Linked DNA regions of Homo sapiens: region 2 is linked to region 1. The links come from fine-mapping of genetic effects on plasma protein levels. A gene starts in region 1. The other region holds a variant in brackets. All regions are shown on one strand. Distances are between the middles of the regions.

The links. A credible set is the group of variants that fine-mapping cannot tell apart. PIP is the chance, under the fine-mapping model, that this variant and not a neighbour inherited with it causes the effect. Protein levels are from the aptamer-based SomaScan assay of Sun 2018.
Region 2: its variant is the best candidate, but not a certain one, in a credible set for the plasma level of the LRIG3 protein (Sun 2018, PIP 0.77).

Annotation. Positions count from the first base shown.
Region 1 is chr12:58,913,984-58,929,736 of GRCh38, reverse strand. LRIG3 (leucine rich repeats and immunoglobulin like domains 3) reads left to right here and starts at 9,233. Exons shown (of 19, transcript NM_153377.5): 1 at 9,233-9,737; 2 at 15,401-15,472; 3 at 15,681-15,753. The coding sequence starts at 9,502. It overlaps LRIG3-DT (LRIG3 divergent transcript), which reads right to left and starts at 9,033. Exons shown (of 6, transcript NR_183518.1): 1 at 8,947-9,033; 2 at 8,265-8,338. RefSeq lists enhancers at 4,069-4,693, 10,067-10,336 and silencers at 8,349-8,458, 9,077-9,186, 9,607-9,686.
Region 2 is chr12:58,870,214-58,885,966 of GRCh38, reverse strand. LRIG3 (leucine rich repeats and immunoglobulin like domains 3) reads left to right here. Exons shown (of 19, transcript NM_153377.5): 10 at 65-136; 11 at 2,376-2,447; 12 at 2,935-3,098; 13 at 5,066-5,386; 14 at 6,862-7,143; 15 at 8,115-8,567; 16 at 9,364-9,522; 17 at 11,394-11,537; 18 at 11,637-11,912; 19 at 13,151-13,812. The coding sequence ends at 13,395. Among named protein-coding and RNA genes, the nearest start is that of LRIG3, 42 kb to the left of the region's middle. The variant A/G (reference allele first, on the strand shown) is at 6,776.

The sequences.
Region 1 (15,753 bases):
AGACATTTGTCATGAACACTATAGAAAAAGATCAAAAGTTATGGTAAAAACATAGTATATTTTCTTGTTTACTTCACAAGCTTATCAATTTAAATGAATAATCACAAACTTCAAGAAAATGTCCATCAACTGTTAATGCTATAGAATCCTTTTCGAACAGACCTACCGACATTTAATGCAATTAATTATTCATGTTTCCGTTAACTTCCTCATATTGTATTTTCATTAGGTGAAATAAATGTTTTATCCAAATTCCTACTGTTAAGATGCCTTGGCTTTAAAAAATATTACCATTACATTAAATAATTTAATATTCTAGGACTAACTGCCCAAATAAGCTTTACTTTTAAGAACATATTTTTTATATATCTGAAAAATTCGATACACTTTTATATGAATTACTTTTGTGCATAGACTGATAAAATCATAATTAGAGCTCTCAATATTGGATGATAATAAAAATTCAAAAATGAATTCACAGCTTTTAACACAAGGAGTATATGTCTCTAGTACTTTCTCTTATCAGAAAATATAGATTTTATCAGAATTCTAGTAGGTGTATTGTGTTACTCATAGCAGAAAGTATTTATCATGTTACTGAATGGCTTAAGTATAAATTAAGACAATGAATATAACTTAAATGAATATAATGACTTTTAGAATTTGTGTTGTGTCTGAATTTGAGGGAAGATTCTAACTCAAGCCTCACTGAGATGACTCAGGTAGTCTCCTAAAGAACGGAAGCCTCTGAGATGTTCCTTTGGCAGTGGACTTGAAGCTCAGCCTCAAAACATAAAAAGCTGAATGGGAAACTAGAATTTAAACTCAGCCAATTTGGGACACTTTTGTTTAAAATTTTTTCCTTATACTGTTCAGAAGTTAGAAAAGCATAAAAATTAGCATTTGCCCATAAACAAAAAGAAAAATTCTGTTACCACATGTGAAGTATCTCAACAGTAAAAACAATCTCTAGCATTAATATTTCATTTCCCTGGACTTGTGGGACCACATGCACCCCATTCATGGTTCCCCTAATTAGGTGCAGCCCTAGACAAAACTGTGAAGAAAGAAAAGCCTGTTTCCCTTTCTGCATCCTTTTCCTCTTCTGATTACCAACCACCTAGGTTCTCCTGTGAGCCAAACTTAGTTTTATAGAACACTGACCATAAAATGTCAATGATACCTTATGTAACACTCCTGGAGGTGAGGGTATATTGATATTGCCAAAGAGGACTTCAGAAAGACAGTAATGTCTGAACCCCATAGTTCATCTCTAATGGTTAGATTCGGAGCACTACTCTGATATCTGGGCAGGACATCAACCTTCACAAATCGGACCCTAAAGTGATTGATTCATACATCTGCATAAAATGAATCTTTTTTGGATCAATGAGGAAAGGAGGAAAAAAAGGAGGGGGAGTGATTGCAACTGACCACCTTCAAAAAACCAGGCAAGGTCCATACTTTCCTTATTGTTTTCAATCTACTGGAAACTCCTTTTTAGCACTAAGGAAGACAGTGAAAATCCTTGCTTCTTCTGACTCTAGTGGAAAGCAGGGTAGCATAGTGGTCAAGGGGTACACTGTGAGGTCAGGTTGACTGAGTTTGTATCCCAACTCCATCACAGGTAAATTCCTTAGCATCTCCATCCCTCTGTTTCCTTATCTGGTAATGTGGGGATAATAACTTAGAAGGTGATTATAAAAAATAAATTAGTTAATAATATCAAATATCTAGAGAATAGTAAGAGTAATAAGAGCTTGATAAATGTCAAATATCATTTGTATAGCTGAAAGGGCCTCATACCTCAATGTCTCCATATTCATTTCTATAAGGCACATAAGCAGAAAGACATCCCTGATACACATAAGAGTGTGAGATAGAAGAACAGTAGTGTTCATGCAAAAGTGTTTAAAATAATTGTAACTATTAGGCCGGGTGCCGTGTCTTATGCCTGTAATCCTAGCACTTTGGGAGGCCAAGGCGAGCAGATCACTTGAGGTCAGGAGTTCAAAACCAGCTTGGCCATCATGGTGAAACCCCGTCTCTACTAAAAATACAAAAAATTAGCTGGCCATGGTGGTGCGTGTCTGTAATCCCTGCTACTCAGGAGGTTGAGGCAGGAGAATCACTTGAACCTGGGAGGCGGAGGTTGCAGTGAGCAGAGATCATGCCACCGCACTCCAGTCTGGGTGACAGAGCGAGACTCCATCTCAAAAAAAGAAAAAAAAAGAATTGTAATTATTTAATTTGCAAAGAGATAGCTAAGGAATATTGCTGGTGACAGCTTCGATTTTGCCCAGGATAAAAATAGATCAAACATATTCAAATGACAAGAGAGCAGAAGTTTATTTATGTGGGCTGTAAAGATGAATGTTCTGACTGAAAAAAAAGTTTTTCAAGTCTGAAATAACTGCTGTGGGAGCAGAAGAGGTTTCCTGCTGTAGTCACAGTTGTGCCTGGGGCAAGCAGATGAGTGAGGTGTTCTTGCAGAGCATCTTCATGCTCCACGTCAGTATTTCAGCGGAAATCTTTCTGCATGGATGTATACACATAGCAGAAGTGTGGAAAGCTTTGGGCTAAATTTTAAGATGTTATCAAGGAAGTATCCGTACTGTCCGTACTGTGACAGGTGCACAGCATCTTGCTGAAACTGACCCCATTCCACCAAAATTATCCCTCACTGTCTATTTGAAAATACATATGTGGAATCATATTGTAACTCGATAGCAATCCTTATATTTAGGGACAGAAGCAGAGCTTTCAGTGCAGGGAACTTGATTCTGACAATGTTTATGACAAAGTCACCTTAATAATTTGATAGTCAGGCCTGGGTAAATGTAATATGTGTAAGAGGATGAAACTATAAATAAAAGCAATAAATAACTCATGTATAAGTGCTCTCATGGTTCTGAAATGCAAATTAATTCTTAGAATAGTGCATAGGCCAACTGTTCATCCAAGAAGTGGGAGAAAAACATTCTGCAAAAAGTTCCCAGGAGGGATATATAAGTCTTTTTAGTAAATATGCCTAATGATTCTTTCTGAACTCATGGCATAAATCATAACAAATTGAGTTATGCAGTAACTTCTTGAGATGGCATAATAAAATTCCTACTAAAAAAAAAAATCTCAGAATATGTACAGTATGCTGTCATAACAGACAGATTTAGAGCCTTGTATTAAGGTTAAAAGTGGTTTAAGTTTTGTTTTCATTTTAAAATTAAATATTATTTTCCTCATTCTATTTTATATTAATAGTTGAAGGTTTACTTAATCCCAACATTCCATTGGAAATTAATCTCAGCAGTGGGATGTTTCCGTAGCGCACTCACTTTGTCTCCCTGAATAATGAAAACAGCAATTTGGAAGTAATAGGAACTAGAATCTATATGGGACGTTATAGTTACAAAATATTGTACTACGGTACAGCAAGGTATCATTTTTCACTGGATTTTACAGGTGAGAAAAATGGAGCATAGAAGTGTGAGGAAATCCAAAGTTACAGCATTTCACCTTCTGACCACCCCGCTTCTTCTCTGACAATTTTTCAAGCATTTAGATTTCTGTATTCCTGACAGGGTAGGCTATTTGACATGAGTTGAGATTCTCAGTGGAGTTTTAGGATTGCAGCTGGCTACAGAAAAAAAAAAGAGAAGAAGAAGAAGCAAGGATTGGAAAAAGAAGAGAAAGTGTTCTGAGGTTCTCAAAGGAATGGGAAAACTGGAGACCACTCAAAGGCTCTACTGCTGGGAAGGACACTCTGCCTTAAGGAGGGTCTGGTGGAAGCTGAAGGCGCCCTCCCCCTTTTCCCATTCCCTACCCCATCTCCAGACTCCCAGCAGCTCCAAAATGATTTCCAGGATATCCAGTGTTGTCTACAGTATGAGTTTTCCTCAGAGCTCACATTATTCCCAGACGGTGACATGGGAAATGAGTAAAATACAAAATAGCATATATTAATTTGCAGTTGAGATAACACTGTTTGTTTTCAATTCAAATAATATCACACAGTTGGCCAACTTGAGAAAAACAGATGGGTGGCTATCTTTATTTTTCTAAATATTTTCTGAAAGTTAAGACATGTTCATAGCAGGGGTTGTGTAAAGTAATCTGCTCTCTAAGTGAAGCTGTGCATTTTGTGTGTTTGTATGTGTGTGTGAGAGAGAGAGAGAGAAAGGAAGGTTATCTATTTCTTCTAAAATGCCTTAATGAATGGGAAAAGATATGGTTAAGTTACAAAGTACAGCAACATTTGCTTTTGGCATCATTATCTGGGGATTTTTGTGCTTTTCTTCCTCCTTTGCCTTATCTCTTTTCCCTTTTCACAGCTCCCACTTACACAAACTGTGTCATTCATTGTAATGATAAAGCAAGTACTGAGTGTTTAGCTTTCATTCTTGTCCTTGGATGTTAAAACTGACAGTTTAGCACCTCTATTACTTTTTATCGGTGAGTCACTGGCCTTGCCAGCACTCAAGATAAGAAAGTCTCACACTTGCCAGAGAAAGAAAAAAGACCAGGAAAACTAAAAAGAGCACTGGGATTGGGTTATGCTCACCACAAAATGGGTGGTAGGAGACCCTTTTGAAAATGGATGAAACTTGCCATTCACTGGGACACAGCTGGAAACGAGAAACTGTCTGGTGTGATCTCAGCAATTTCCAATGGAAAGCTAACTTCCAACTACCTGGTTAACCAGTGTAAACCTCTGAAGGAGTAGAGAAATCCAACATCTTATCTCATTTTATTTCAAATGTTAAAAGACCTCTGGTCAAAATGAATTTGACTTTCTCATACTAAATTCTTATTTGTAAGCCATTATCCACAAAAACTGAGATTCAACATTTGATAGCACTGTGTCCTCTGTGTGTGTGTGTGTGTGTGTGTGTGTGTGTGTATACAAGAAAATGACATCATAAGAGTATCAGAGAATTCAGTGATACATTAATCCTGTTTCTAGGTCACTGTTATTCCCTGATACATTTTGGGAGATTAAACAGAATTTTATGTACCTCTTCTTCCTCTATTACAACTATCTTTGCTGTCACTCTGCCTTCACGCCTATTTTCTATATACTGTAAAGGAATCAGAACAGAGCTGTAAGGGACCTCAAAAGATATTAGTTCTCATCTGCCCAGATGGATACCCAGTGGAAGTTCTCTCTGCCCTGTGGTTCATGAAAGGTTTGAGAAGCCTGTGAAAATATTACATTGATGTAAAGTTTCAGCCAGGCAGGTGGCTCATGCCTGTAATTCCAGCACTTTGGGATGCCGAAACGAGTAGATGGATTTCTTGAGCCCAGGAGTTCGAGACCAGACTGGACAACATGGTTAAACGCCATCTCTCTCTCTCTATATATATATATATCTATATATACATATATTAAAAATACAAAAATTAGACTGGTATGGTGGCATGCGCCTGTGGTCCCAGCTATTCAGGAGGCTGAAGTGGGAGGATCGCCTGAGCCCAGGAAGTTGAGGCTGCAGTGAGCCAATATCCCGCCACTGCATTTCAGCCTAGGTGACAGAGTGAGACCCTGTCTCAAAAAAATAAAAATAAAAAAATTAAGTTTTCATGTAGGACTAGTTCCCCTTTGTATTGACCACATGGTTAAGCACATATCGAAATGTAGAACAGTGATTTTTAATGTGCGCTGTATTCTTTCCATGTCATCCTCTTTTACTCTCTCAATGATCCCATTAAGTTCTGAGTAAGCTTAAGCCACACCCATAAAACGTCCTCTGTTGATTAATTCCCAAATACAATTAAAGTGGAACAAGATCTTACTTGCAAAGTAACCTTTCCAAAAAAATCTCCTAGATATTTGTAATCTCCTCCTCCCATATTTACAACTGTCTTATCTTCATCTAATTGGATAGCATTGTTTTATCGATTACCTTTAAAGAATCTTTCCCAACCTTCAAATTCATTATCATAGAAATAAAGGTATTTTCTTGTTGCACTTGTATTTGGTTTACACAATATTGTGTAACATTAATAATATATATAAACAAGTCTGTAACTACTGTGGATCAGCACCTGACAGGTAGGAGCAAATATGCAAAGGCTGTTCTAAGGAGAGGCTGGTAGTTTCTAGATTTCAGCTGGTCATAGGCATCAGTCAGGTTGTACAGAGAGAACAGAGTGACTGCTAATCCAGTAACTGATAAATGGAAGCCAGCCAGATAAGATCGTTTTTTATTGTATTCCCAATTTACAGACTGAGAAACTGGGGTACTGAAAACTTAGGTAATTTAACTTCACAATAGCTGGTAAAACCCTTAAAGGCGATAAGGAATACATGGTTATCGGAAAATTCTGTAGTATTACCTGGGGGTTAGAGTGAAAATGGTCTATTACATTCCAGTCAATACTGATGTGCTGGAAGTATACTGGAGGTATAGATAGTTAAACCTGACTCAGGGAAGTGTTTGCCAAAGAAGGAATGCCATCAACCAGGCAGAAGAAGGAGCAGAGAATGATTTGGACAGAAGAACCATTTGCAAGAGGGCTGAAGGCAAGAGTACAGCTGGGAAGAGAATTGCAAGTAGCTCCTAGAGTAGGAGAAAAATGATGAAAGACAATGAATTAAAGAGATAAATAGAGGCTCAATGCCAAAACAAACAAACAAAACTGTATAAGTCACTCTAAAGAATTTGAACCTTATTCTCAAGACACTAGGAACCCAAGAAAAGAACTGGTCAGTTGAGTCACAGGCTCAGATTTGACCTTCAGAGATATCACTTAACTGCCCTGAGGAGAAAGCAGTGGAATGCCTGATAGGTGGCAAGAGCTGCTGGTGGTCTGGATTTGCATAATTTCTACAGAGAGAAGATACATTTAGGAGCTAGCTTTAACATGACTTGCTAATTGATTGACTCTGGTGGTGGTGGTGGTGGTGGTGAGAATGAAGTAATGTTAAGGTGACTTTCAGGTTTCTGGGGCATTCATCTGGATGGAGGGAAGTATCCACTCTTTAAGACAGTGAATTCAGGAGGAAACAAGTCAGTTTCAAGGGTGGTGAAATTTAATTCTAGACATGTTACATTTGAACATCCAATTTTTAATGACCTGTGGGTAATTGCACATATGGATTTCGAGTTTAGGAAAAAGACCTGGGCTGAAATATGGATGTTGTATATGTCAGCATGTAAATGTAAATGGAATTCATGGAAGAAGATGAAATTATACAAGGAGAATAAAGAATGAGAAAAGGAAATGAGCCAAAACTCCCCAAAATGGTAGCACATTTATATCCCTGTCATATGTCTCATGTCTCAAGAGCAAGCCTCCATACTGATGTTACCTTGCTTATGCATAATGGCATGTGTACAATGGAATCTTTCTTCTTTTTAAAAACTTCAATGAATTATACCTAATTTTCCTTGTATGAAATAGATGGGGGGCCGGGTGTGGTGGCTCACGCCTGTAATCCCAACACTTTGGGAGGCCAAAGCGGGCGGATAGCCTGAGGTCAGGAGTTAGAAACCAGCTTGGCCAACATGGTGAAACCCTGTCTCCACTAAAAATACAAAAAAATTAGCCGGGTGTGGTGGTGGGCACCTGTAATCCCAGCTACTTGGGAGGCTGAAGCAGGATAATTGCTTGAACCCAGGGGGTAGAGGTTGCAGCGAGCCGACATCGCATCACTGCACCCCACTCCAGCCTGGGTGACAGACTGGAGTGTCTCCATCTCAAAAATAAAAAAATAAAAAAAATAAATAAAAATAGATGGGGGATACTGAGCTGGAAAATCCTTACTATGACTGTAGTGTGTTTTGTCTACTCCCAAGCAGACAAAATCATAAATTCAAAACCAAGGTGCCATCATTATAGATATTTTCTAATTATAATTATACATCATCCAAAAAGGTAGTAGCGTTGTTGTTAATGGTAGCTGGAAATAAGAAAATGGGATACCATATCTAAAATAGGGTGTGTTAACTTCAAAGTGAGTCTTTTCCTTCCCCCGTAAGTGGGAGTGATTTGCTACAGTGAAAAATCAATGGGCCTTAGAGTCAGGGTTAAAGTCTCAACTCCACAAGCTATCTCCACTCCTCAATCATGAGCAGTTTACGCAACTCCAAGGACAGACAAGCTTGGGCAGACAGCATGCAATAAACAATGTATAGAAGTGAAAACTTACTTTAAGCTTCCAGGGTTTGTTTTTTGGTTTGTTCATGTTTTCTGTCTTGCTTTTATTTTTATTTTTTTTGCAACAAACACATTAGTTACGTTCTCTAGGTCTATTTCCTTACCCAGAGGAGGAAGGCCCCTTAGCACATGATCTCTGCGGTCTCCATTAGTTTCAACATCTTGTGGCGCTGATCACCTGTAAGTTAAGGAACAAACTTCACTGGGAAGTCCTGTAGCCTGAATCCAGCCCCAAACATCCACTCCCCCAGCTGAGGAGGCCGGGAGGTACTTTTACCCTGGTAGCATTCTCAATCAACATGTGTCATTACTCAAAGCGCAAGTGGACCAAGGTGCATATACTAATTTTTTCCTCCAAGGTCTTAGTTTTCATTTTACTTTGAAATGTCACTGTGACTACTTTTATTATTACTATTACCAGGAATCTATGATTGCCATCGAGGTCTATTAGAAGGTCATCTCCCATCCCCCACCCCGCCCAGCTTTATCCAGTGCACGAAGGCTGGCTATTTGTAATTCAATATACACTTTCCAAAACCACGAGTTTTACGTTTTATTATTGTTTTTACTTTTGAAGCCGATGTATGGGGGAACACCCACCAGCATTAACGTTGAAAGAGCTGTTTTCATTGAAACCACTCTTTCATCTGTGGATGGTAGGATAATTTATCAGTGTCTTTAATTTGGAATTGAAAAGTTTCCTGAAAACACTGCTAATTAAACTTTACTTCCCTGAAGTTCTCCTAAATACCTCCAACTCCGAGAACTAGCCCAGTATTTGCTCACTTCCTTTTGCCTTTCAACTCCATTTGATATATGTTTCCCACGACGTAGTGGAGACTTCTGGCTGGAGAGGCTGGAAAATATAACTCTGAATTTCCTACAATCTCAGCTCCACTTTCTCCCGCGCGTAGGCCCCCGGCTGGAGCGGTGTTATTGTCACGTGGCCACGGGGACGCCCGCAGCCGAGTCGGCCAATGGGCGCGCGTCGGCCTCTACCCGCCCGCCTTGCTACTCCGCCGCGCGGGGACTTGGCGCAGTGCCGCGGGGTGGAGGCGAAAAAGTTTCTTTTGCAGACAAGAAGGGGCTTCGGCGAGCCGACGCTGCTCAAGCTGCAACTCTGTTGCAGTTGGCAGTTCTTTTCGGTTTCCCTCCTGCTGTTTGGGGGCATGAAAGGGCTTCGCCGCCGGGAGTAAAAGAAGGAATTGACCGGGCAGCGCGAGGGAGGAGCGCGCACGCGACCGCGAGGGCGGGCGTGCACCCTCGGCTGGAAGTTTGTGCCGGGCCCCGAGCGCGCGCCGGCTGGGAGCTTCGGGTAGAGACCTAGGCCGCTGGACCGCGATGAGCGCGCCGAGCCTCCGTGCGCGCGCCGCGGGGTTGGGGCTGCTGCTGTGCGCGGTGCTGGGGCGCGCTGGCCGGTCAGACAGCGGCGGTCGCGGGGAACTCGGGCAGCCCTCTGGGGTAGCCGCCGAGCGCCCATGCCCCACTACCTGCCGCTGCCTCGGGGACCTGCTGGACTGCAGTCGTAAGCGGCTAGCGCGTCTTCCCGAGCCACTCCCGTCCTGGGTCGCTCGGCTGTAAGTATTCTTCCCGCGGGGGGAGGGGGCCCGGGCCGCTGGAGATTCGAGAAAACAGGAGCCGGCGGGGAATGGGGTTCGGCGTGCAGTCCCCTTTTTGCCGTATAGCTCCTTCTGGCCCAGGCCGCGATCGGCGCTCCGTGGGCGTGGAAAAAGAACTGTCCGGGCCTCAGTTTCCCTCCCACGTGCTTTGCGGGCGGCGCAGGTGGGCTCTTGGCGCGTCCTAACTGGCTGCAGGTAGACCAGGGTTGGGGGCCAGTAACGACGCCAGAGATTGGGGATGAAGTCCTGCGCCCTAAGCTAGCCAAGGGGTTCAAATGCTTGCTCCTGCCAGGCCCAGGGGAGATAAGCGGCAACCTGCACACATCAGGAGTTTGCAGTTCTCGCTGAGTTATGAGTCTGGTTCAGTTTTAGTTTCTAGCTGCGTCAGACTCCTTTTCCTGTTCCCACCCAGTAACTGAAGTCAGGCTTTTCATTTGGGAAGCCCCCTCAACAGAATTCGGTCATTCTCCAAGTTATGGTGGACGTACTTCTGTTGTTCTCCCTCTGCTTGCTTTTTCACATTAGCAGACCGTAAGTTCCCACTCCTCAACCAGATTGTAAAGACTGGTCGGTAGCTATGGAAAGGGCGGAACTCGATTATCCAGAATCAAGGGCGTGATTTCTGTAGCTCCTCAGAACGCCCAGACGGTTTAGGGGAGAGCGCAGGGAGCTCTTATGCAAGTTTTTGGATTTTTAGCTGCGAAGTCTGAAAACCTGAAATCACTGCCAACTGCGTGAAGAACAAGGAAGAAAATGTAATTTAGTTGGAAATGCTGATCTTTTCCAAATGTCATCTCTTTTCTTCCTCAGTCCCAGTTTTAAAATTGGAGTGCTGTAAAAAGTAAACAATCAAAATTTGTATTTTTTAAAGTAGTTGTTCTGTTTAAAATAAAAGTGCACTTCATACGTAATCTTATATTTTGACTTAGCAGAATTGCAATGAAAATTTTAAGTTTTTAAAACAATTCTAGTGAACTATTCCAATGCCCTAATGTGGTAGGAGGTTTGGTCAGGTGTTTAAGAATTTATATTTTAAAATTATTGTGCTAATCTAAATAACTTTTGTGAATGTAGAATTGTTGGCCATCAGAAAGTATATTCCTTGTGTTTTTAATAAGCCTTAGTTTAATAAAGTAGAATTAGTATTGGATTGATATTTAATTTCTTGGGACGTTTTATTTAGTAGTTTTTATTGCAATTGGAAGAGGAGATAAGGTCTTTAACCGAAAGCAGGGAGACTTTCAATTAGTTGTGGCTAATTCTGTTAAATTGCCTCTTGTGGAGGTCATGCTGCCTTATTCATGAGTGAATGGCTCTATTGACAACATATGGAACTGAACATGTAAATGACTGGAGGTGAACACTTAGGAATAATAGAGGGATGAGAAAGAGAAAATGAATACAGTGCTTCCTGGAGTGTATTTAGATATGCTTAGATTATTCACGGCATCTAACTTGTATTCGATAGTTTTTCAATGTCAAGTTGTCTATTGTGATCATGCTAGTGTGCAGTACTTTTTTTCTTTTTTCCTGGATTTAGATGTTTAGAAAAAAAATCTGTGTTGCCCTTGATCAGAAGTTGAGTTGAACCAAAAGGGGTTCGATACCTATTTAAACATTGTCTTAAAAGTAGCTGACCTAATTAGGATTTTGTTTTGCAGATAATTTGGTGGCACACTAAAAACAAATTAGAGTTTATTTGGTTAGCACAGTCTTTAATTACATTTCCACCAGCAGTAAATTGTCTCAATACTAGCCCACATTCCTTAAATGTATGTGAAAATAAGTTCCACTTGTATAAATAAGCACTCAGTCTGTTGTCAGGAACCCTGCTGTGATCACTTATTGGACAGCTCTGTCATTCCTGTACTTCTGTGACTTTTAACCATCTTTGTAGGTGTCACCAAACCATGTGGTCTGGATTCTTTATTGTAAATATTTCTTTTGTTTGTACCTAAAGCTCTAGAGGTCTCCTCTTTCCACTTTTGAAAGGAGCAGAAAAACACGTGGAATTGAGTTTTACTTTCTCTGTTATTTGGTATTTTAGAATAGGTGGTCTAAAAAGCTACTAAAGTTTTTCGTAATTAGAAAAATCGTCTTAAGGAGATGATTTCCGAGTTCAGATATAAATAGAAAAATGCATGTTTTTGTTCCCCATATCTTACCTTCCCTTTCCTTGGGTAATCAAAATAGTAGGAGTTTGTCTTTGGACTGGCTTATGAAAGCACTTTTCAGAAAAAGTTCAGTGTCTATCTTTTGTTTCATTTGTTGAATTTGCAAGTTTAAGAAAAATTACGTGTGTATGTATTTTTTCCACTTTATTTGGTTGTGATTTATTACTATAGGAGTCCCATGTGTGAAAAGTCGAATAGTTTGAGCTGTAAAATAATAATACTGTATCAGTACTCCTTTTAGAAAATAACCTCTAATGCTTTAATGAAAGTGGCTCTTAAAGAGTAACTATGTGAGCGAGACTTTGTCTAAAAAAAAACAACCCAGTAACTACGCCAAGCCTTGCTCACAACTGCCATTAAAGGCAAGCTAGAGTTTATGTCAAGAGTTTGCGCTTAAACAGTTCTCAACCTAAAGAGGAATGCTTGTTAGAATGTTATTTAGCCCAGAGACGGAAAAGTTGCTAAATTGCCAATGAGAACTTCCAGTATTATTAAATTCTCACTGGCATTTCAGAATTATTTGTCTTATGTAGAAATGTTTGAGTTCTCAACAGGACCCAGGCGAAAGTCCCAAAGGTAGTTTCTGCTGGTGTGACTTCTTTAGTGTTGACCTGTTATAAATCTTATGGTCCGGACCACAGTTGGGGGTGGGGTGGGGGTAATAGTCCTTATGGTTTTCACAGCTGTTTTTCTGTATTTTCCAGACTAAAACTTGAATATAGCAGGCTGATTTATGAGTCACTTTGGATCAGTGTCTTAAAACAGCTATAGCCTGGCTTTTTGTTTTTCAGCTTTCCAGATTTGTGCTGAATTAGCAGCTCTGCAGGCCCCAGTGGGATTGCTTAAGAAGCTGTGCTGGATTTGCATTTAAAATTTGACTTGGAAGTCAGATTTCCAAATGCTAAAAGGAAGAAAATGACAGCTTGAACCAAATGTTGCAAATTGATTATTTTCATATATATTTATTCATTTGCTAATATTCAGGAAGAGAGAAGTCTGTCTAACCATATAGAAAGAGTTTGACTTTCAAGTGTTGGCCAGCTGAGCTCTGGGTACAGTTAACACTTCCGTACCTTACTACCTTTCCCATTCATTAACCCCACTACAAAAAGTTTTTGTAAAAGTTTTGTGGGGAAGATGCTATTAATGGAACTCTAAACATGAAGAATCTGCCTTTCTTATTGAATGTTTTATGATCTGGGTTTAAGAAAACATCGACGTTGTACAACTTGAATCTGTTTTTAATGGTCTAGCCATAAAAACAATGTAAGGAAGATTTAGGAAAATGTGACATCCCTTAACTGGAAAGTAATCATTTCTCAAATGTAAACTATATTAAATCTAAATTTAGGTACACTAAAAGTTTCATAGCTGTAAGTATTTAGCAGTAAATGTCATTTAAGGGGTGTTTTTTTTCCTCCTACATATAATGTAGTTTTAATAGTACACAAAACTCAAGAATGGAAATGTGTTGCAATAACTGAAATATTCAAAGTTTCAAGCTCCTGCTTCTGGATCAGAAATGAGGGGTCCCCAGCATGTGCACTGGTCTCTGAAGGGAGTTTCTTATTTTTTACAGGTCTTTTGTAGGAGGAATCTTATCCCATTACTAGTTGAAAAAAGTTAAGCACTCCGTCTCATTTCTCTCACAGGATTGCCCTGTGAAATAATCCTTAAAATGAAGTTAATCCTCAGTTTTAGTGTTTTTTTATTTTTAATTAAAAAGAGAATCACCTGTGTTAAATATTAATGCCAGATTGCTTCCCCTTTCTTTTTAAGACCTGAAACAATAGGGGATGCAGTTTTACGCTGGCTCAATGCTCTTTAGTTAAGTGGGTCCAAATGAGACTTTCTGTTGACTCAGGCTACCTCCCAGGTGAAAGACTCTTTTCCTTGGTTGTTTTTTAAACCATGTGGGAAATCTGTGACTGTCTGGGGTGCTAAAAGCACACAGGTTTTGTTTGAATCCTAACGTGAGTTGTTGGGCTCACGGTTTCCTTGATGAACTCCAGATGGACTTGAGCTGGGCTGCAAGGGAAAGTGTCTGGCTCCAGCCAGCGTGGTGAGCATGCACAGCAGTGGTTGTAATTGCAGGATTTTTATAGTTTAAAGACTGTGCCAGATTTTTTTCATGTTATAACTCTACCAGAACAAATCTACTCATGTCTGTCACTGTCTGGTAGGTCTTTGGGCAAACATACTTCAAATAAAACCTTGCAGATTTTTTTTTTTAGGTGAAAAAGAGAATCCAGGTTTATTCTCAAAACAGAAACTCAAAGACTGAAAGGAACTCTGATTTCTAATTGTTAACTAAACACTGAGTAACACTGTGCTTCTCTGGAGGTGATTTCTCTTTATTTATTTTTTAGGAGGGGTGTACTTATGCATATAACAAATAATTCATGCTTTTCTCCAATCAACTTTGGTTATTTAAAAAACTCCGTTTTAAACACCAAAAAAATTAGTATGGGTTGGATAACCCTTTCAGTGGGAAGCTTCAAGCCATACTATTTGTTATCCCGGTTTTTCATCACTCTGGAACCATTTCATTTTTATTACACTATTTTGAAGGCACATAGTCAATGTGTTAACACATATGGGGAATATAACCAAGAATATTTGCTGGAATTTGTTCCATATTTTGAATCTTAAATGAGATGACTTTCTAGCCTAGAGTATTGTATATGTATGAGTTTGTTATTGTTTTTAATAGTAATGATGTTCTATGGAAATTGTTACTAAGTTAAATTGAGTTATTGAGTAAGAAGCACATTTATTTTAATGATTGAAATCTGTTCACAAGTTTTTGTGCAATCTGCTGAACTTTGTTAGATGGCGATGTGGTTTAAATTTTATATTATCAGATATTGATATTTGGGGAATTTAAGAAAGCAGAGGGTTCAGATTGTTTTCTACCCTCTCAACACTCACACACAAAATAATGCTTTAAATGATTTGGTGCTTTAACGCAGAGAAACAAATATGTATGCAAAGCAATTTCTGTTTTCCTTGACTGCAATAAGGACATTGATGCTTAAATGTATGACAATAAAAAGATTTCTATAGAGGCTTTAGTTTCAGCAACCTGCCTAATTAGCTCCTTTTCTTAAACCATGATGTCATCATATCAGGTTAGGAGTGGGGAGATGGGAGGGTGAAGCAGACCTGCCAGTTCACAAAAGATCTGTTCACCACGTGCCAAAAAAACATCTCTTAAAACATTTGTGGGCTTAAAGTATTTGAATCTGCCAGTCTCCCTAAACTAATTTTGTCCTTGGAGCTTGTATTTTTGAGTTTGGCATTTTGGTTGCCATCTAGTTTGTGGACAGAATAGACCAATTATTTCTCCTGCTCTCACTGGTGTTCATAGAGATACTTCATAAGCCCAGTTAGCACTATTAGTGATTTTTAGAAATGACTTATAATTTTATTTTTGTTTTCTTATAGGGACTTAAGTCACAACAGATTATCTTTCATCAAGGCAAGTTCCATGAGCCACCTTCAAAGCCTTCGAGAAGTGTGAGTCTTCGTTATTTTGTTTTTAAGGTTTGAGTAAAATACGTTACCCCTTATACTATTTAACCGTAAGGAATACTTGGATTATAGTGAGTTATTCAAAACTTTTAACTTGGGTGGTATCTTGAAATAATATGTAAAGTTTTCACCTCTGTGAATTACAGATTACCTAATCAGCTTTTCTTTTTCTTTTTTTTTTTGGCATTTGTAGGAAACTGAACAACAATGAATTGGAGACCATTCCAAATCTGGGACCAGTCTCGGCAAATATTACACTTCTCTCC
Region 2 (15,753 bases), 44 kb after region 1:
TATGAGAGTTCCACCCCAAAATGGCTTTTTAAATTAAGTGCTCCAATGTAATTTTTTTCCCCAGGATACTCCAAGGAAATCGGATCCGTTCTATTACTAAAAAAGCCTTCACTGGTTTGGATGCATTGGAGCATCTGTGAGTAGCTAGAATTTAGTTACCCTAAAAGAGAATCTCTAAGATGGTTTTTACTTATGTGTCATGAAAGATAAAACAAACTGGAATGTAATTTTGTTGGCATCCTTCCGGTTCCATAAAATATATTTAAACATCTCCCTATCTTTCTATTTCTTTCTCTGTCTACCTACTTACCTACCTACCTATATAGAAGTATACAGGTGTATGCTTTCCTTTGTATTTAAGAACAAAAGCTATATCTCCTTAATGGGTTTTTAATTGTTTTTCTCAAACAGTGATTATTTAATTAAAAAAAAAACAAACTACTAGGTGTAGTTCATCCACTATATATCAGGCATTGTACCACATATTCACATATATTCTCATTTAATTCTTAGTCAGAATACAATTCAATAGCTATTATTATCTTTATTGTTAAGCGGAGGTTCTAAGAGTTTATTGATTCCACTGGACAGTTAAAGGAGATGACTTGGCTTTTAAAGAACAAAGACAATGTTCCACAATCCTTAAGAGTGACATAGGAGAGTTTTAGCACTACTTTGAGAATTGTTGGTCTCTTATTGTTGTTTAATTATGAAACATACAACCCCCCCTTACCATTGTTCTCTTTTTTGTTGTTTTCTTTTGTTTCGTCTTGACCCACCAGTTAGTAGCTGTCAGAAGCAGGACGCAACCCAGAGCTGCCCCGACTTGCACAGTGTCCCTGCATCACACTAGCTCTTGCCTGTACAATCTCTGCCGCTACTCCCAGTAGCTCCTAGTAACTCCTGGCACACATTTCTGAAATGTCATTTAGGGGCTCAGGAATTTTCAGCCACTAAGAGAGGAAAGCTAGCTAACATTGATAGGAATCAAAACTTGCATGTTTTAACTAAGGGAACCAACCAGCTGCTTATAACCATGGATGTATGTTTTACGCTTGTACAGTAAAAGTACAAAGTAATGTATAATATCGACTCTGACTGTTAAGGAATGCTTGTATCCAGAAGTTTTAATATGTATTAACCAGGACAAAAGAAGTTACAATTTAAAATACATATTGGGTTCTCCTATGTGTGCTGTGTATTGAGAGTGAAGATTTAGCTGTTATCTGTAAACCACTGTGTTGTCACCTTCTGACTGCACCAGTTCCTCTGAGGGAGACTTGGATCGTGAGCCACCCAGACAGTGAGTGCGGCAGTTCAAATTATAGTAGAATGATTCTGCAAAGCTGAGTTTTGGAAGGGCAGACCAACATTGCAGTATTTATTGAAACCGATTATTTTGAAAAGAAAACTAGCCAAAAGGGTTTGTCATTTGGCCCATTCCGTTTCTGGGAACGTGGAATTAGTGGATCAGTGGAGTATTAATCTCTGCTTCAGTTTTCTTAAATCTTCCTTGATTGCCCCAGCCTCTTCGTCTAGCCATGTCTGGTCCCTTCTTTCTTTGTCTTCTCTTCCCACTTGTCTCACTCAATATTCCCTTTGTATACTGTGACCCCTGTAAAGAAAAACAGAGTGGTAATCATTGTGGTGAATACTTTAATGCAGAGTGCTTATAAGTCTCTGTATAAAGAGAATTAATCCAGAATATGTGCTCATTTTATGAATTTCCTGCCTGAAGTATTGGTTTTAACAAGTATATCTTGTCTGAACATCTTACTGCGTTTATGTTAGTGAGCTGTGGGTGACAGAATTAGGTTAATGGTTAAAAGCACAGGTTTTGGAATTGAAAATAATTGTTTCAACCCTTACCTTCCCCTTTCGTGCTGAGCTAAGTAGTAATACCATCATATTTTGGGTTGTTGTAGGAATAAATGCAGTAACACTTGTAAATCACTTAACTGAGTGCATATCTTCAAAAATACTGTGTAAATGTTTTATAAAAGCATAATTATTTTTATTTTTTATTTGTATATTTTATTTGTATATTTAGAAGTTTCCAATAGTTGCTAATTTGAATAAAGAGTAATAGAATGAAATAATAGAACAGCATGGGCCCTAATGAGTCAAATAATCTTTAAGTGATGACAGAAAGTGAATCTTTTTCACTAAAACAAAACCTATCTGTGATACAAATGCCCTGGGTCTTCAGCACAAGCTTTGCAGTGGATTCTTCTGGGGCTGCCCCAGTCATGTATTTGACACATAGAGGGAGTATTTGTTTGGCAAATGGGGTGGGCAGTGGGGGCCCAAACTTTGTCCAAAAGCACGAAATGATGGTAGTTTGCTCTGATGCATTTGATTTGGTGATTTTTCAGAGACCTGAGTGACAACGCAATCATGTCTTTACAAGGCAATGCATTTTCACAAATGAAGAAACTGCAACAATTGTAAGCTTTTCTTTTCCTTCTAGGAGTCTGAAAGTATAGAGGGGAAAACTGTCATATGGTGTGGCATCCTGGATTATGTATCTATAAAAAGTGCCTGGCACATTCTTAACATTACTTAATTTTTATACTAGGCAACAGAAAAGGAGTTTATTTGTTCTTTTTGTTGAAATGAGTTTTTCTTTCTATTTTAAATTCGCAACTTTGTGGGACCAAATATAGTACAGTCACCCAATATAGTAGTAATTTTTTCAGTTGTAAGGAACTTTTGATAAATCAACACTTCTGTCTCAGTAGGACAGTAAGAACAACAGAAAATCATGCTAGATACATTTCTTGTATTTTAAAATGGACTGTGGGATACTTATTCCATGGGATGTGTGTATTCAGTTTCCAAATTCATTGCTTTGTTAATATTTACTTGGGTTTAGTTTACTTGTAGAAATCTGCATTTCATACAGAACAAATTGAATGTAATTACTCTCCTCAGGCATTTAAATACATCAAGCCTTTTGTGCGATTGCCAGCTAAAATGGCTCCCACAGTGGGTGGCGGAAAACAACTTTCAGAGCTTTGTAAATGCCAGTTGTGCCCATCCTCAGCTGCTAAAAGGAAGAAGCATTTTTGCTGTTAGCCCAGATGGCTTTGTGTGTGGTGAGTATAAGTATTGCCCTTGCCTTTTATTTATTCTTCTTTTTTCCCCCTCCCATTTATCCAAATAATGGTTTTGAATAGATTTATGATCTCTTTATAAAGCTTTTATTTCTGCTGAGGTAGAGGAAAATGGGTCTATAGTTTGCTGATTATTTTAATTTCACAGATGGGAAAGAGAGTTTTCTAAAATTGCTTCATCTTTGTTTTGGCATCAGGATGGTGCGGTGGAATGAGAATGAAATTGGATCTTGGGAGAATGGAAGGGTAATCTCAGCCCTTCTACTTAACTTAAATTCCCTAAATATTAGTCTCTGCATCCATGAAATGGGGACTCTCCTTTCTTCTCTTCCCAACTCTGAGGCTTGTTGGGAGGTTTACATGAAAGAGAAAATTATTAATGATTTATGGGGTGCTAAAAAATTAACTATTGGTCGGTAAAACATTTACAAGTAATAGGAAATGTGAATTTATTATAAATAATTTTAAGGTCCATTGTTTTAGCATCCAAGAATCTCAGCATTAGAAATCTAGTTACCTGAACTTTACATAGCTAGTTAGTAGCAGATCTGGATTTAAAAGAAAAGTTTTCATCTCTGGTGTAACTTTCTGTCTATTACATGATGCTGCCATTTACTATTAGCTGCCATGGAGACCTCTGTAAAAATAAATATGTTTTATAAACCAATAAATCAGAATTTGCTTTTATTTAAGCATGGGTGTTAAAATATTAAGAACCTTCTTTTGCATTGGCATTTAAAAATTTACTTAAAACTGCTTTGTCCACGATATATATTTTTAGGTTGCAGCATTAAGCAGTGCCAGTAGTTTCTGGAAATAAAACCTCTGATGTAGCTTTTGGAACTGAATAAGCTTTTGGCATTCATCTGTAAGGGCCTGAACTGCTCCTTTCCCATGGTCCTTGTTTCATAGTTTTTTAGTCCCAAGATCTGATCCCCCTATTACGTTGAAACACATGTATAGTATCCATCGTTTTTTTCACTTCCTTGTGAATCTGAACATCGATTTATTAGATGAGAATTTCAGAATAGTACAGAAAACACCTCGATTACAATATGCAGACATTGAAAAATAGCAGCCCTGGAGTTATCAAAGCATCCCCTATAACCCATTCAATACACATAAAAAGTTGTCTTTTCAAATAGTAGCACCCAAATGGTACGCTTTGGTAGATCTCAGATGTTTCCTTCTGGGTTTAGATCATGGCTGAGAAACTGAAGTTCAAAAAGGTAACTTTTCCAAAATGTAACAGAGAACTAAAAATAACTGTTAGAATGAAAGAGTTGCTTAGCTCTAATTATAATGTAGCTTTGACAGGGCAGCGCGGCGGCACGATTGGCCGCTCAAAGCTCCAGGCTGAAGCCAGTGTCTTACAGTTTGTTTTACAGATGCTTTTTCTTTTGCTATCAGCTTTTTTTTTTTTTTTTTTTGCCTCTACCTAAATTACTGTTTTTAAATAGTGGTTCTGTTTTGGTAAATGAAGTGTTAATGGCTGTCTTTGTTGATTAATCATGATTGATGTTTGATTTCCTAATTTTGCTGCTCATTATCTGGGGAGAACATGGGAACAATTGCAGTTTCTGATAGTAGCATTCAAAAATGATCCCTGAGCCTGGAAGTTTTTAAACTGCTTTCTTCTTCTACTTATAGAAAGCATAAGGGATCAGGAATAAAGTGTGGGTTTTCCGATAGCTCCAAAATAACAGTCTTTTCTCAGGTAATAGTGATTGATAAATAGATCTGCATCTGTATTCGAGATGAATGAGTTACTTTATAAATACTCTCCCAGTGTATCATTTCAACATGGGGACGGCTAGTCCATCTGGAAAACATACACAAAGGGTAAAACCTAAGCCACTGTTTTTGCATTTCTTGGTGTTCAAATTTGAGTAGTATTTGGACTCTTGAGCCTTAACATTGTTTTGTCTCCTCCTCTCCATTTTTAACAGATGATTTTCCCAAACCCCAGATCACGGTTCAGCCAGAAACACAGTCGGCAATAAAAGGTTCCAATTTGAGTTTCATCTGCTCAGCTGCCAGCAGCAGTGATTCCCCAATGACTTTTGCTTGGAAAAAAGACAATGAACTACTGCATGATGCTGAAATGGAAAATTATGCACACCTCCGGGCCCAAGGTGGCGAGGTGATGGAGTATACCACCATCCTTCGGCTGCGCGAGGTGGAATTTGCCAGTGAGGGGAAATATCAGTGTGTCATCTCCAATCACTTTGGTTCATCCTACTCTGTCAAAGCCAAGCTTACAGTAAATAGTATGTGATCTGACTTTTCCTTTAGCATTTAAAGATACCTTTTAGAAATAGAAAGCACCTGTTTTTCTCTCTTAATCTTAACCCTGTCTTTTCTTCTCACAGTTCCCCACCTGACTCTTCCTTTCCCTACCTTTCATTCCACAAAATTAAGATTCTTGGTTATTTGTATCTAAACCTGCAATTATGTTGAAGACGACACCGTACTCAGTGTGGTGAGTAACACAGAGATGAACCAGACATGTTTTTGCTCTTTTTTTTTTCTTTTTCTTTTTTTTTTTTTTGAGACGGAATCTTGCACTGTCACCCAAGGCTGGATGACATCCTGGTTGCAATCTTGGCTCACTGCAACCTCCACCTCCCAGATTCAAGCAATTCTCCTACCTCAGCCTCCTGAGTAGCTGGGATTACAGGCGTGCGCCACCATGCCCGGCCAATTTTTTGTATTTTTAGTAGAGACGGGGTTTCACTATATTGGTCAGGCTGGTCTCGAACGCCTGACCTTGTGATCTGCCCACCTTGGCCTCACAAAGTGCTGGCTGGGATTACAGGTGTGAGCCACCGTGCCCAGCAATGTTTTCCTCTTTGAGAGTTTACAGTGTAGTATACTGATCTGGAAGGCTGCAAAGCATCATGCTGGATGCACACTGCCTTTAATTCAGAGATCTGTGTGTGAATCCTGCCACTCCTGCGTGATTTTCAGCAGGTTGCTTCACTTCTCCGCCTCCAGTTCCACATCTTTCAATTAGGGATAATAGGACCTGCCCCCTAGAGGCATTATGCTCATTTAGTGAAATAATATGTGTAAAGGATGTAGCAAAATGGCTACAAGGTAGTGCTCAGTAAATGCACTGTTAGCCACTGTTAACAGAAGTCTATTCTTGTTTGCTTTGTGTGGTAGGTATACAGTTTTACAGTAGGATCCTTGCCACTTTATCATTTAACTATCTGTATCTGCCGTGGTAGAAGATTTTGAATATGATTCATTAATGCATTCACTCAGCAAATGATGGCTGTGGCCTGGCACATAGAACAGTTTTGAGTTTAAATTGTAGGGCAAAACATGTATCTTAAAAGTCACAGAATGTTAGAGCTACCAGGAGAGACTTTAAAAAAAAAATAGATGAAGTGAGTGGTCAGGGTACAAAGAGATTAATTGATACACCCAAGATCTCACAGTTGATTGTTGAGGAAACTAAAAAGTGGCAGAAAATAGCAGGAAGACCTTCATTCTGAGAATCAGATGACCTCTGTTTTATCCTGACTTCATTGTTTCTGTATCTGTAACCTTGAGCAAGCCTTTTAATCTTTCCATCTCAACTTTAGTTTCCTTGACTTGAAATTGGAATTAACCCCTGCCCAATCTATGTCAGGGACAATCTGTAAGTATCA[A/G]ACAAACAAACAAATAATAAAAAGGAATGCAAGTGAACCTGTAAGACTCCACTGTGCTAATGCCTATATTGTTTCTCTGATTTCAGTGCTTCCCTCATTCACCAAGACCCCCATGGATCTCACCATCCGAGCTGGGGCCATGGCACGCTTGGAGTGTGCTGCTGTGGGGCACCCAGCCCCCCAGATAGCCTGGCAGAAGGATGGGGGCACAGACTTCCCAGCTGCACGGGAGAGACGCATGCATGTGATGCCCGAGGATGACGTGTTCTTTATCGTGGATGTGAAGATAGAGGACATTGGGGTATACAGCTGCACAGCTCAGAACAGTGCAGGAAGTATTTCAGCAAATGCAACTCTGACTGTCCTAGGTGGGTGAATTTGTTAAGATTCTGTAGTATAAATCAGTCTTGAAGATACTAGCTCATCCAAGGTCCCTAAGTATCAGAAGTTGTGAGAGTAAGAGATGAAGATGTATGGGGCATTGCCTTTTCCTAGAAAGTATTAATGCAAATGGCCTCTTGAACACTTTGAAGTCAGGGATTGCATGACATCCTCAAGTCTGGCCACTGAGGTGAATCCCTGCCCCCTCCATCCTGAAGAGAGGGGCCGAGGAAAAGTTGGGATGCTTTCCCTTTTATGGGGGATCACCCTCCTCTAATTTCCCCACTGTGCTGTCTATATCAGTAGTCTTAACACCATAAAGAACATTAAAAAAAAATGTGGGAACAAATTGGGAAGGCCTTACTCTCTTTTCTCAGCCTACCATACCTCTCCGGAAGTCAGAGTTTTTTTTTCATCTTTTACCTAAACAAATGCTTTTTAAAAATGTAAACACAATTATTATTCACGTATCTTTGAAAGAGCTAATTAACGTAACCTATTAAGATACTAAATAATAAAAGTAAATTATTGTCAGAGTTTTAATATAGGCCCAGGCATCCGGCCCTAAAAAGTTTCACTTAAAAAACTTAAGCATTCTGATTTTTTTTATTTATCAACATACCCTTGTGCTTGAAATTATTTTTGTACTTTCTATTTTTAAAAAGCTTTTGTTTCCCACTCTCCCCCCCTACTACCAGCTTCCCGACTTTTGCAAAAGTGAGGGAAGCTGAGATTTTAAAAATAGTAGATATTATCCTTAACTGGTGTTATGAGTAAATGACAGCAGAATAGTGAAATACTGAATGTTGTATATGTTTAGGCTCTTAGAAAAGTGTGTCCAGTAAGTTGTGGGAGAATAAAATTTTAGGTTACAATTTGAATAAGTTTAAATGCTACATTTTATGATATGGAAACTAAATTTTATTTGGGAAATTAAAAGCATAACTTGTTATTTCAGAAACACCATCATTTTTGCGGCCACTGTTGGACCGAACTGTAACCAAGGGAGAAACAGCCGTCCTACAGTGCATTGCTGGAGGAAGCCCTCCCCCTAAACTGAACTGGACCAAAGATGATAGCCCATTGGTGGTAACCGAGAGGCACTTTTTTGCAGCAGGCAATCAGCTTCTGATTATTGTGGACTCAGATGTCAGTGATGCTGGGAAATACACATGTGAGATGTCTAACACCCTTGGCACTGAGAGAGGAAACGTGCGCCTCAGTGTGATCCCCACTCCAACCTGCGACTCCCCTCAGATGACAGCCCCATCGTTAGACGATGACGGATGGGCCACTGTGGGTGTCGTGATCATAGCCGTGGTTTGCTGTGTGGTGGGCACGTCACTCGTGTGGGTGGTCATCATATACCACACAAGGCGGAGGAATGAAGATTGCAGCATTACCAACACAGGTGTGTAAACAGAAGCTTGGCACAGGTCACCGGAGTCATGTGTATTTGTGGTTCTGCAAATACTTCTAGAACGTGTGTCTTGCAGTCTGAGTTCATCTCAGAAGGGTGACTCATTTGTTTCAAGCTGCAGAAATATGATTCGCTAAAAAACTCCAGCCCCAAATAAAGCTGATGTTTAAAGATTAATACTTTTTGTTAAAATGACATCAGGGTATCCTGTGGCTGTGAGATAAAATCCAAGTCACTGACTAAAATATTTCTAACTCCTTCATAAGATAGTGATGGAGAACCAGGAACAGCCCTTTAATGATAAGGTTTACTCTCTGCAGTAGTTGTATGTCTTGTTGTCTGTGCGTATGTGCATGTACTTAGGTTGGATTTTATTAGTGGAAGAGGAGCTGTGACTTGATTAGTATGTGCAAAGTCAGATATTGATTAGTAATATTAAGAAGGGAATATGGCAATAATCAAGCATAATTCGAAAGCTTAGATACTGTCCCATGAAAATTCTTAGGCCTTCAGCCTTTTAAAAAATCTGTTTAAACATTTGTTGTTTTGAAATTTGGGAGGTGCATCCAATGGGTGATAAAACAGAAAGTCAGCTTATACGTCCCAGAGCAGCAAAGCCCTAATTTGCCGTTCCAGAATACTGTACAATCGAGATGGTTTTGCCAGAGTAGATCTCCCCTAATTTGATGTATACAGAAGCCAAAATAGTCTATGCCATTCACCCGGGATGCCTGTGGGACAATTAACGATCATCCTTGGTTAATAAAATGCTGCTGTTTTATTACAGATGAGACCAACTTGCCAGCAGATATTCCTAGTTATTTGTCATCTCAGGGAACGTTAGCTGACAGGCAGGATGGGTACGTGTCTTCAGAAAGTGGAAGCCACCACCAGTTTGTCACATCTTCAGGTGCTGGATTTTTCTTACCACAACATGACAGTAGTGGTAAGTGTTTAAAATGAATGTGGGCTGTAATTGTTTTGAAGTCATATGGTGGAAGGCTCAGATATGATATTCATTTTCACAAGACATTGATAACACTGACATTTAGGACCTGGCCCAAGATCACTAGCAAGGTTGAAATTGTATAGTTCTATACCGTTCTCTTAAATACTAGGAAAGAAATAAATCTTTGTTTCTAACAATAAAAAAAGACTAGTAGGTTTAGAAAAATGTAATTATTCCATGTGTAAAGGATATTTGTGTATCCTTTACATTATAAATGTTCTTTGGCCCTTAAATGATATTAACTGGTTACATGAATGGGCTTAAAAGTCTAATGGTTTACATTATTTTCTTTAAGAAGTCTATTTTTTATTTATTTATTTTTATTTATTTGAGACGAAGTCTCGCTCTGTCACCCAGGCTGGAGTGCAGTGGCGTGGTCTCAGCTCACTGCAGCCTCCACCTGCTGGGTTCAAACGATTCTCCTGCCTCAGCCTCCCAAGTAACTGGGACTACAGCCACATGCCACCACGCCTGGCTAATGCTTTCTTTTGTTTTTGTATTTTTAGTAGAGATGGGGTTTTGCCATGTTGGCCAGGCTTGTCTTGAACTCCTGACCTCAGGTGATCTGCCTGCCTCAGCCTCCCAAAGTGCTGGGATTACAGGCGTGAGCCACCGCACCCAGCCTCTTTGAGAAGTCTAATTCTGACCCTTGCTTTCAATGCTGCATAGTTTTGAGAATAATAATGGAGACAGCATAATACAAGAGCACAGGTTTGGTACAAGACCTACTACTTACTGCATGTACTGTGGGGCACATACAATACTTTCTGGTGAGGTACTTGTGCAAATGAAATGAAGATGGAAAACTACATGGCGCTAGGCACATATTAAGGGCTCAGCAAGTGGAAGCCATCGATGTTATTCTAAAATATATGACCAACTTTTCCCATAAGTATTTATTATACGCTCTGTGCCAGACATTGTAGTTGGGAGAGAAGTATATGTTTTCAATTTCACAGTTTCGTCAGAGGTGGATAAACTAAAAGTGCTTGGCAAGCCAGAAATAAAGAGCGTAGAGTTACAGGATCTGAGCATAGAAGTGAGTATTCTGGTTAGACCCGTTTAGAGGCAGAGTGGAGACCCAAGCTCATTAAAGCATAATGGGGTTAACTGAAAAGACACTTAAGGAAAACCTAAAGGGACAGAACTGGGGCATAATAATGCCAGGCTGCCTAGATGCTGAGGCTGGAGATGAGGCTGCTCCCAGAGTAGCTCTGGGCCACCAGCATTACTGTGTCACGTTCTGCATATTTGCTTTTCTCTCAGCCCACCACCTCTTGCTGCCCAGTTTCTGCTTCCCAGACACATGCGTCATCGTGACATCTCTAACCCTGATGATATCATTTACTCTTCACCTGCTGTGTCCAGCAGTAAATGGCGTATATTTCTGTGTTGTTTGGTTCAGATACTCATGAGATGATATGTTTAGCTGAGCTTATCTTTGAGATGGGCATTAAGAGGTCATTGGCCAAGTGCCAATCCTGGTTCTGGTCATCTGGGACCTTTTGTAAGAAGGGGACAGTGCTGATGGTATGTGGTTTAGACCATGGCTGCTTTGGCTGCAGGATCTGCACATATCAGTTTCCCGTAGAAACCAAGTGAGCAATAAGGCCACCACACCTAGCACAATGGCTAATTAAGTCCTCTAATAAATTTTTTAAAACCCTACTGTAAATTTTTGCAATTTTTTTGTCTATATGATGTTCTAGTCAAACTTTCATCTATAAATATGGAAGATGCCAAAACTGGGGAGAATGTTGAATGGCACTTGAATAATTGGATCATTGACTAAGATTTTTGTTTCAAAGGGACCTGCCATATTGACAATAGCAGTGAAGCTGATGTGGAAGCTGCCACAGATCTGTTCCTTTGTCCGTTTTTGGGATCCACAGGCCCTATGTATTTGAAGGGAAATGTGTATGGCTCAGATCCTTTTGAAACATATCATACAGGTAGGTGGTTTTCTTGCTTGAGTACAGTTCTGTTTCTTAGAGAGACTTCTAGATGTGCTAACTGTAATCTCCTTCTGTTACTGCCCCCATATTAAAAAGGTTGCAGTCCTGACCCAAGAACAGTTTTAATGGACCACTATGAGCCCAGTTACATAAAGAAAAAGGAGTGCTACCCATGTTCTCATCCTTCAGAAGAATCCTGCGAACGGAGCTTCAGTAATATATCGTGGCCTTCACATGTGAGGAAGCTACTTAACACTAGTTACTCTCACAATGAAGGACCTGGAATGAAAAATCTGTGTCTAAACAAGTCCTCTTTAGATTTTAGTGCAAATCCAGAGCCAGCGTCGGTTGCCTCGAGTAATTCTTTCATGGGTAAGTTTATTAAGTTATCAGGTACCTCGTCTGAGGATCCATACTCCAAGTTGTGTGTGAGAGAGCAATGACAGCCTTGAATGTCAAACTGGTAAAAAATGGTTTCTTGAATGAGGCTGCCATGACATCCGACTAGTTAGTGTAAATGCCTCCAAAAGCAAAGTCAGAGGTGGGATTTTACTTGATGATGTGTTTAATCTATAACTAAGCCTCAGGAGCTTTCTGGGTAGCACTGTGTGTGGCATCTACTCCAAGACAAGGGTTTGGGGAGGACTTAGGAGCTCAGCTTGTCAGCCATGTGGAAAAAGTGGTTTTGGGCTCCCACGGCCTTTGGGGTGGAGTTGTGTGCTCTGCATGATTGTGGTTTGGTATGTCTGGTGGCTTCCAACTGAACCCGCAGTCGAAGGGTGGAAAACAACATCCTACCTAGCAACAACTGCTAGTCTGACAAGCTGGACTACCTTTGGCCAAGAAAACCAGCCTTAAGGTCCAAGTCGGTGGTGTTAGATGCTGGCTGGCACTGAGATTAGGTAGTGAATTTTTTCGTCTGATGCATGGGGATAATAGGATGGAAGAGCTGAGGTCATCTTTTCACTGAACAGAGAGATGGAAAAATCAGCCACAACTTGCCATGTTGACAATAAAATTTAAAAAAGGAGAATTTTCAAATATTTTACCCAACTTCTACGAAATGTTATGTTTTATCACAGTGTAATTATTTATATTCCTTTTTTGGAAAAAATTAAAATAATATGCTTTGTATAACTGAGGCAAGAATTTGATTCAATTGAGTAATATTTGGCTACAATTAATGAAGAAAGGGCAGGACACAGGTTTATTTTGAAAGAAAATTTCTTTATTTAGCCTCAGTTAACTTGGATGTTACCATCCAACACACCCGTCACCAAAATTGGGCTCTCAGCTAGGATGTGGGGAAACTTATATTGGGGAACTTTATTGCATGACCATTAACATTACTACAGGTCATGAGAAATGATAAAGAATAGATGCATTTGTTCAGTGGATGTAAATATGAGGGAAGGCAAATGTCTTTTGCTCCATTCTAGAAGTGATCTGGCTGTAAGACAGATGTACATGTATGTGAGTGCCATAATGTGGACTTGTAGAAAACACTTACTCATATTCATGGGGTAAGATGTTCCTTCATTTGCAATGGGTTTTATTGATTCACATGCTAGCAAAGGGACCCATGTGCTCAAGGTGTTTCTTTCTTTCAGGTACCTTTGGAAAAGCTCTCAGGAGACCTCACCTAGATGCCTATTCAAGCTTTGGACAGCCATCAGATTGTCAGCCAAGAGCCTTTTATTTGAAAGCTCATTCTTCCCCAGACTTGGACTCTGGGTCAGAGGAAGATGGGAAAGAAAGGACAGATTTTCAGGAAGAAAATCACATTTGTACCTTTAAACAGACTTTAGAAAACTACAGGACTCCAAATTTTCAGTCTTATGACTTGGACACATAGACTGAATGAGACCAAAGGAAAAGCTTAACATACTACCTCAAGTGAACTTTTATTTAAAAGAGAGAGAATCTTATGTTTTTTAAATGGAGTTATGAATTTTAAAAGGATAAAAATGCTTTATTTATACAGATGAACCAAAATTACAAAAAGTTATGAAAATTTTTATACTGGGAATGATGCTCATATAAGAATACCTTTTTAAACTATTTTTTAACTTTGTTTTATGCAAAAAAGTATCTTACGTAAATTAATGATATAAATCATGATTATTTTATGTATTTTTATAATGCCAGATTTCTTTTTATGGAAAATGAGTTACTAAAGCATTTTAAATAATACCTGCCTTGTACCATTTTTTAAATAGAAGTTACTTCATTATATTTTGCACATTATATTTAATAAAATGTGTCAATTTGATGCCAAGCCCCATTTATACAATAACAATTTTTATTATTTTTAGCACAATTTAGGCTTAATTAGTTCACATTATCATGTCTCAAACGGATGGGAATTATATTTAGCCCATTAAAGTATGAACAAAAATGACCGTTTTTTCTACCTCCCAGGATTGTTGTAATACAGATTGAAATCAGATTGTGCATATGAAAGCACAATTGTAAACGAGAAGGAGCTACAGAGATTTAAGGTACATTATTTCTAAATCTACGAACAAAAAAAGATTTGTTGTTATAATCTGGTGTAATATAGTACAACTACCATAAATCACTGCTCAATTCATGTTTCTTTAATTATAATAATGGTTTACGTGGTCTAATGCCTTATGCTTATCCAAGTAGTTTCACTTTTGCCGTCCCTTTTCTTACAGCAAGCGAGTGGTTTATTGCATATGTCTATAGCTAAAATGGCTCTAGCAGAAGTGGACTTTCATGCACTGTTCCAGGTTGTAATGAGATGCTGCTAGAATTGTTTTCTGTTTTTATTGATTTTCTGCTGGAAGAGCAGTTTGTATATAAATGGTACTTCTAAGCTATTTTTGAACAATTACCAAAATATTTTCTTTGATCATCAAGGTTTGGTTAAAAACTAAGTATAAAATATCTTACTTAAGCACATAAAACTAAAACATTTGTTTTAAAACAGTATTCATTGAAAAATGTAATTACATGGCAGGCATATATACACAGAAAAATGAATATAACCATATTTTCTTTTTTTTTTTAATTATACTTTAAGTTTTAGGGTACATGTGTACAACGTGCAGGTTAGTTACATATGTATACATGTGCCATGTTGGTGTGCTGAACCCAGTAACTCATCATTTAACATTAGGTATATCTCCAAATGCTATCCCTCCCTGCTCCCCTCACCCCGCAACAGGCCCCAGTGTGTGATGTTCCCCTTCCTGTGTCCATGTGTTCTCATTGGAATATAACCATATTTTCAAAACTAGATGACACAATTCAAAGTAACTGAAAGGAAAAAAAATTCAGTTTAATAATTCAGATTATAAAACTTTTTTCTTCTGTAGTAAATTCTAGCTCATATGTGTAGTTTAAAGAAAAACCCTCTTGCTCAAGATAAATTGGCACAAAAGGAGTTAATATAGCACAATAAGCTTTAAAAGTCAACTAACCTCCAAGGTGTGAATTTATGCCATTGTCTTGTGTTTGAACTAAACTGAAAGCAGCTATTCAAAAAGCAGATTCTTCTTAGAGAATATGTTGGGGTTAAAGTCTTCCTGCTTTTAGTGAGTTTCGAGCTTTGTTGCTTGTGAGCCAGAAGCCTGGAACCCAGATTGCAGTCGATTTTCCTGCTTTAATTTAGACGCCAGAATCCAAGACAGGAAGTTGATCCTTCCTTGGACCACCAGTGACTAAGTACAGAGAAGTAATTTCGTATGCTTTGGCTTGATCATATTGCCAGATTTTCAAAATTTTATTGTTAATTTGTCTTCATTATTGCCAGATGGGGCCTTTTTCAGTTATTATGAACTTCTTTTAAAGGATTTAATTTTTCCGTACTTAAGCACAAAGGTTTAAATCATTAACGCCTGAAATTCAAAAATTAGATTCACTCTACATCAGTATGATTTTACCCTTTTACTGGGTGTATGTGCTGAAATTTGTGGATTAGATGTAATGTTAACTGTCTGGAGAAAGAGTAGGAACTTGATTTCTCTTTGACATTTGCAGGAAAAGAATATATATGATTTTGAGACTCCAAATTGAATTAACAAAATCAATCTAGTAGGTGGTAAGATAACCTAAAATAACATAGACTCAAGGTAAAAAGCCTAATGTAGATAAATGTCACATTGCTTGGAGGAATACTTAAAAATTCCAGTTTAATCATCCTATGCTTTTTGATAGGAGTTCATGTACAACATATTTTAATAGA